Homo sapiens: one gene and its partner. The protein of the gene in region 2 interacts with the protein of the main gene of each other region in a pairwise test. Each region holds a gene or a part of one and is shown on either strand. Other genes may lie near its edges. The genes, in order: LSP1 and GREB1.

The links.
Region 1: the proteins of GREB1 (region 2) and LSP1 interact in a two-hybrid assay, tested with the Homo sapiens proteins (one large-scale study listed by BioGRID and IntAct).

Annotation. Positions count from the first base shown.
Region 1 is NC_000011.10:1,859,373-1,863,197, reverse strand, and holds part of LSP1 (lymphocyte-specific protein 1), read right to left. Parts: intron 3,735-3,825; exon of another isoform or gene 3,662-3,734; intron 1-3,661. UniProt on the Homo sapiens protein: May play a role in mediating neutrophil activation and chemotaxis.
Region 2 is NC_000002.12:11,627,954-11,631,778, forward strand, and holds part of GREB1 (protein GREB1), read left to right. Parts: intron 1-1,994; coding exon 1,995-2,156; intron 2,157-3,825. UniProt on the Homo sapiens protein: May play a role in estrogen-stimulated cell proliferation. Acts as a regulator of hormone-dependent cancer growth in breast and prostate cancers.

The DNA of each region.
Region 1 (3,825 bases), on a different chromosome or scaffold from region 2:
GGTGGCGGCAACAGTCGGAAAATTCCACATGGGACCATAGACCGGGCTGTGGTGACTCAGGTGGTGGGCTACCCCATGGAGACTGCGGGAGTCAGGAAGTCCGTCCCCACTCCCTACATACACACCAGACTGGGTCCCAGGGCCAGTCCTGGAGAGAGGAGCCCACAGCATCTCCCCTCCCCCGGCACAACCCAGGAGGAAGCAGGGAATGTCCACTAGAGACCATGGTGTTGGCCCCACATCCCCAGCATCCACAAAGCTGCAGAGACCACAGGATTCTGGAGTAAGCAGGAGGGATGGTAGCCAGGGCTGGACCTCAGGTTGGACAAATGTTTAGTGAGCTCACCCAGGGGAGGGGAGGTCACCCAGAGGAGGCAAGATTACCTGGGGGAGGTGAGATCACCCAGGGGAGGTGAGATCACCCAGGGGAGGCGAGATTACCTAGGGGAGGTAAGGTCACCCAGGGGAGGTGAGGTCACCCAGGGGAGGTGAGATCACCCAGGGAAAGCTAAATCACTCAGGGGAGGTGAGATTACCAGGGGTAGGGAAGATCACACAGAGAAACTGAGATCACTCAGGGAGGACAGATCACCCAGGTAAGGTGAGATTACCTGGGGTGGGGGGCAGTGAGCATGTGCTTCATTTGCACCTCAACCTGCCTATTTCCTCCTTGCCTCCTGTTTTAACTTCTGGAGGAGTCCCAGCCACAGACAGCCAGGAATGAAATGTGGCCAAGGCATATTTTAGTTCAAAAGAAGGAAGAATATTCCCACAGGGAAAAGAGCTACCTTGGAATGGCAGGACTTCCCTGTCACTAGAGAATGATCATCTGTCAGAAATGCTGATGGATGGGAAGTGACAAGAACAGATATTTACATGTAGCGGCCAAGATTCATGGTTTTACAACTAGAGCATGTCCTGTGAGGGACAATATGGGAGAGTATTTGATGTCAACTCCACTGTTATGTGTGCGCTCATCCATTCACCCACTCATCCATCCATCTACTCATCCATCCATCTCTCTGTCCATCTCTCCATTCATCCATCAGTTCATCCATCCATTTTACCCATCCACCCACCCATCTATTCATCCATCCATTTATCCACTCATCCATGCATCCGTCCATCCACCCATCCACTCATCCATCCATTCATCCATCCATTCATCCATCCATCCATCCACTCATCCATCCATCCACCCATCCATTCACCCATCCATCTATTCATCCATCCATCTATCCATCCACCCATCCATCCACTCATCAATCCATCCATCCATCCATCCATCCATCCGTTCACCCATCCATCTATTCATCCATCTATCCATCCACCCATCCATCCATCCACTCATCAATCCATCCATCCATCCATCCATTCACCCATCCATCTATTCATCCATCCATCTATCCATCCACCCATCCATCCATCCACCCATCCACTCATCCACTCATCCACCAATCCATCCATCCATCCATCCATCCATCCATCCATCCATCCATCCACCCACCCATCCACCCATCCACCCATCTATCCATCCATCCATCCATTCACTTATCCATCTATTCACCTATCCATCCATCCATTTACCCATCCATTCATCCATCCATCCAACCATTCATCTATTTATCTATCCATTATCCATCTATCCATCCATTCATCCATGCATCTATCCATCCACCCATCCATCCATCCACCCATCTATCCATCCATCCATTCATTCATCCATCTGTCTATCCATCTGTCTCTCCATCCTTCCATATATTTATTCAATAAATCTGTACTGAATTCAGACACTTTGAAGGTGCTGGGGATTCAGCATTAACAAAGTCCCTGCTCTTATGATGATCATGTTTCAAGTGTGGGAACAAACACATAAATAAATAAAGGTCAGATGATGGAAAATATGACAGAAAATATAAATCAGGGTAAAGGCATATGGAGTTCTGGAGGGGATTGATATTTTACGTATGATAGCCTCATGGAAATAAGTAATTCTTTCCTTGGGTCTTTATATATGAAAGCCTCATGGAAAGAAGTAATTCTTTTCTTATTTGAAAAGAGATGAGAGAAATGGGAGGAAGTGTTCCTGGAAGAGAGTGCAAAATTCCTGATTTAGTAGTGTCTACTCACACATCCGTCTTTCTAATAGTTTACTCAGCACGGATTCAATTGTCTATTGATTCATTATCTATCTATCTTTCTACTCATCTCTTGTTATATCCACCCACGTATCCATCTATTCATCTATTATCCATATCCATCCATATGTCTACTTCTCCTGACATCCTTCTATTAATCTTTCCAATCATTTATATGTCCATATTCCAGCCATCCAATCATCCACCCATACATAATTCCATCTCATGTGTCCTTCCATCAATACATTCATTTACCCATTTATACACCCATTCATCCATCATCCATTCATCCATAAATCCACTCATCTTTTGTTTTGGTACATTTGCTCATTTAGCTGTTGGGCTGATGATCAGCCAATATGCACAGGTACAACACAGTTCAATATAGGAATATATATAATCAGCACCCATTCCAGTAGATTCATATTTGTACCACATGCTTTGTTAAATATTCTAAATATCACATCTGCATTTATCTATCCACCCATCCATTCGTTCTTTCATCCAAACATCCATATATACATACAGATGTTCTTCTGTCCATCCATCTATTTTTTGTTCATCTGCTCATTTGTTCATCCATTCATCAATTACTAAATAATTCTTTCTATTTATGCATGAGTTATACTCTATTTATACATGAGTCCATCCAACCCATTCATTCATCCACCCCATCCATCTGCCCATCCATTCACCCACCTGTCCATCGATCCATGCACCTATCCATCCACTCATCCCTCCATCCATCCACCCATCCATCCATCATTCAATTATCCATCCATCCATCATTCAATTATCCATCCATCCATCCATCCATTTGTTCCTACTTCCTATCATTCTTCATTCATCTTTCCATTCATTCATACTGTTCTCCATAATTGATTCTTTTCTAATCTTTATTTTTCCTTTCTTATGCAACTAAGACATGGTTCATAAGCTCATGGCCCAAGGATAAAGCAGACCACCATGGCCCAGGAGGCTGAACACCTCAATAGAGCCTAAGCAGGGGCTACAGGGGCAGGGATCTGTCTTCATATTGACACATTCTCATCATCCCCGACACATACCTGCGAATGTATGTTCACAGAGCAGCATCCCAGTGAAAGGTGCTTTGAGCACTGAGAGAGCCCATGGGGACAGGGGAGGTCAGGGTGGTGGCCTCATTGGCTCCCGAGTGATCCCTGGTGGATAAATGTCTGTGATTTAAAGAGGAGGCAGCCTCCAAATGCTTGCAGCATGCATCTGTTCAGTGTGGCCCTCTGTTCAAGCAGGCACTGCTGACAGCAGGAGAATGGGCCAGAGCCACGGGTAGGGGGCAGGGTGGTGGGTCATGGGTGCTGGGGGCTGGGGGCTGGGGGCTGGGGGCTGGAGGCTGGGTGGTGAATGGTGGGTGCTGGGTGGTGGTGATGAAGCTCAGATTTTGGTTGGGACTGGGTCTAAGAGAAAGGCTAAAGGATTATTTCTAGATTCATCTGGAACGAATTGGCTAGATCCTTCTATCCCAAGTCCCATTGCTTTTCTGAGGGGAGGTACCTGGGACAGGAGGAGGAGGCAGCCTTGCCTCAGAAACCAAACTGTCAAAAGTGTAGGTTCCACTCAGGAAGGAGGAGCACAGGCACTTTTGAGATGAGGGGGACGTGCTCTTCTCTGGAGCAGAAAGAAGCAGTAGGTGAGGTCCCACCTGCCA
Region 2 (3,825 bases):
GTGGGAGAGGGGAGGTGGGGTTTCCAGGGGATGGGAAGTGATGTGGGTTGGGTGTTTCTGGAACCCAGACTTTGGGGTGGGTACACTCAGCCACGAAACTCGGAGGGCAGGCAGAGGCCAGACCACAAAATGCCTGGTGGGCACTGTGGGGAGGAACGAGGACTCTCTCAGTGGGAACTCCAAGTGGAGCCCAGTGTGGGCAGAGCTGTGTTTAGACTGGTCTCTTAGTCCCATGGAGGTGTATGGAGGGCCTGTGAGGCTGGTTATTTATAAACAGGGCAGAGGATTTATTTTACATTGAATATTTCTTTTCATTTCAGACCCGAGCAAGGGAGAGAGGGGTGGAGGGAGAGAGCCAGAGTTGGTGGGAGCTAGTCAGATGCCTGGCTGGGGAGCAGAGGCATGTAGGGTAGCTGATGTCCTGGGCTGCTTTCAGAAAGGCCTGAGGCAAGAGCACTGGCCTCTCTTTCCATCCCTTTTACAGAGGGAAACAGCACCTGTCTGCCTGGCCTTGAGCTTGGCTGCCGGGGACGCAGCACTCATTGTTTGAGTGTGCAATTGTACTGTAGATGAAAGAAAGAACATATGAGCAATTTTTTAAGGGTCAAAATAATCAGTAATCCCATTTGTTCCAGATAAACTCTCCTAACATTTTGTTTCTTGGAGATGTAGTTTTTCTTTTAAGGCAAACAAAAACATACATGAAAACACGTCCTTGATTTTGAAATGTAGGGAACTGAAAGGGACTGAAGGGTGTCAGTCCCTACTCATCCCTGTCAGTGTCAGGAGTGGGTAGTGCCATCAGGACCTCGGGCTGCATCAACAGACACCAGAGTGCAGAGGAGGAGGAGAGGCAGCCGGCTGGGCTGTGCCTGGCCTGTGTTCTCAGGGGTGCGCAGGTCTGGGGGCCACAGTGGAAGAGGAGCATGCCTGGGACGGTGAGGGGGCTTGAAACCAGCTGGTGCGGGTGCAGAGGCCGCGTGGCCCCCTGGCTGCCCTCTCCATGTGGCCTGCACCTGCTCGTTCTGTTTTCTCTTCCTTTGCCTCCCAAGGCTCCCTTGACCTTTTTTATGAAACTGCCTCAGTGTGTCCTCCTTAACTGCCTCCCCGAGTCAAAATCCCTTTCTCCCTCATCTCTGCTCCCAAAGAAAGGGCTCTGTGGGTCTAGAAGAGCCATGGCAGAGATTAAAGCAGTGTGTGCTCGTCTGCCTCCTTCCCTGCAGACCCTGGATGCATGCATAGCACATGCTAGGAGGGGATGTCAGTAGGAAGGGCCGTGGGTCGGTGGGGTCGTAAGAGGACGTTCAAGCTGAGGGCAAAGCTGCGCTGGAGGTCACACCCAGAGCAGCACGTGCACAGATGTGGGGTGTGAGGCTCCTGGGAAGTGGAGGCTGGAGGAGGTGACTAAGGGCGCAGCCAGACTTGGTGACTTGGTGACAGAGCCCAAGGTCTCTGAATGTCAGTTTTCACACCTGTAAAATGGGGATGATGACAGTACTGCTTTGTAGGATTGTTAATCGCAGCACACAGGACAGAACGGTGCCTGGCGAGCCGTGTTATAGGAGTGTCCAAGCATATGCAGCTAGTGTTAATATGTGATTGCATGTAACTGTGATGGAGAAATACATTTATTAGAATTAAAAATGAGCTCTGTAGCATGAATGCTTGAGTTGGTGACCCAGAACAGGGCTCTGGTCAGGTTCAAAGCCACGGGGACCAGAAAGCTTGATGCCTGCTTGGCACAGCAGGGTGAGGCCCCATGCGGACTGAGGATGGGAGCAGGCTCTCGTCGTGGGTGTGTGGCCTCGGGCGTGCTTGCCCTGTCAACAGACCTGGGTGTCTGCACTTTGCACTGGAGTCACCCCGTGGGTTTCTTGTGCTGTAGGGAAGTGGTGACTGTGAGCTGCACGTTGTCACAGCAGAGTGGGCCTGGGGTCTTCTGGGAAGCAGGCCGGACTCTGACGGCAAGCTCTGTCCTTTCCCCCACACCCCAGCTGTATGAGTCCACCCTGCACGCCTTTGCCTTCTCTTACTCCATGCTAGGAGAGGAGATCCAGCTGCACTTCATCATCCCCAAGTCCAAGGAGCACCACTTTGTCTTCAGCCAACCTGGAGGCCAGCTGGAGAGCATGCGACTACCCCTCGTGACAGACAAGGTACTGGCTCAGAGACCTAGTGGGACAGATCCAAGTGGCTTCAACTGGGGACTGAGCCGGGGACTAGAGACAGAGCTTCCTGTGAGGGAGTGCAGACACCGATACAGGGACTGAACTTGGAGGAGGCTGGTGTCGCGCACGGGCTCTGGAGTCACTCCAATTCAAGCCTCAGCCTTGCTCTACCATTTACTAGTTTTGTTACTTGAACATGTCACTTAATATCTGCAAGCCTTGGTTTCCTCATTGTTACATTGGAGAGTAGCAACTTGCAAAAGCTTGTGGTGAGAACTGTTTGGAATAACTGATGAAAGGCCCTATCTTCCGTGCCCGGAAGATAACAGGAGCTGGGTAGACGTTCATCCCCTCCCTGTCTTTTCTTGAATGCTCTGCCAGGTAACATTTTGCGTAGGCTTAGGTAGATAGGACAGCACAGTGAATCCCTAGGGCCCATTACCAACTCCAGCAATTGCTAACTCATGGCCAGCCTTGTTTCATCCGTCCCTCTCTCCTCTTCTGCCTTCCTGTTTTGTTTGGAAGTAAATCCCAGACCTCAAATCATGTCATCTATCTATACATATTTATACCTATAGATATAGATATTTCAGTGTGTCTCTCTAAAAGACACATTTCCTTTATCTTTTGAAGAGGTCGTTCTGAACGTTCCATTGTCTCTCACCATTCTTACAGAGATGCTCCTTGTAGAGCTTTTGGTTTGACGGTGCTCACCTGATCACCTCAGAGTCAGTTGGCTGCTCTTTAACCAGCCCCGCTCAAGGCAGGCCATGTGGAGAAGCTGCTTTTCCTTCTCCAGAGTGCTAGGCACCTGTGGAGTTGCCCCTGGCCTTTCAGATCTGGCAGCCTGTTATTAAGCAGTGAAAATATTTGTAATGTACCCAAGAGGACTTCATTGTTAGGTACCTCCTACCCCACGGGCTGGGGTTGGGTGTTGCGGTGAAATTCCAGGGGTGAAATATGAGAGCTGGGGTTTCTCCACCACTCCACTCACCTTCCAGCCTTCCTGGCGGAGCTGGCCATGAGCACCAGCTGCATGCACAGTGTTGTGGCAGGTGCTCTGAGGAATTCAGAGGGAGCAGAAGGCCTAGCTCTGCCAGTTGAACTTATTGTTAAAGAAGGAGTTGAAGAAAACAGTTATTTACATAAAAGATATAACAACCCGAGTGGATAGCTAAGCTCTATGGGGCAGTGATTGGGGGGTGTTGTGTGTTCATTTGCATGGAAAATTAAAGACATACAAGAATAATGTGTGCTCTGGGCACAATATTAGATTCTAATATGAGAGGGTAATGAATTTGGTTAATTGCTATATGCCAGTTAATTTCCGTTGCCTAACTATTCCCAAATAAGCATTAGCTTTGGGATCTGTGGGCTAGCAGTTTGGGCTTGGTTCAGCCGGATGATTTTCTGGGCTCTGTTGTGCTCACTCACTCGTGTCGATAGTGAGCCAGCAGGTTGTCTGCGGGCTGGCTGGTGGCCTCAGCTGGGCTGTTCAGCTCTCCTCCATGTGGTCTCTCATCGTCCAGCAGGCTAGCCCGGGCTTGTGCATGGGAGAGTTCTGAGAGGGTGTGGAACATGTAAGTCCTCTTGAGGCTATGCCCAGGACTGGCACAAGGCCATTTTTCCTCCCTTTTACTGGTAAAAGCAAGTCACA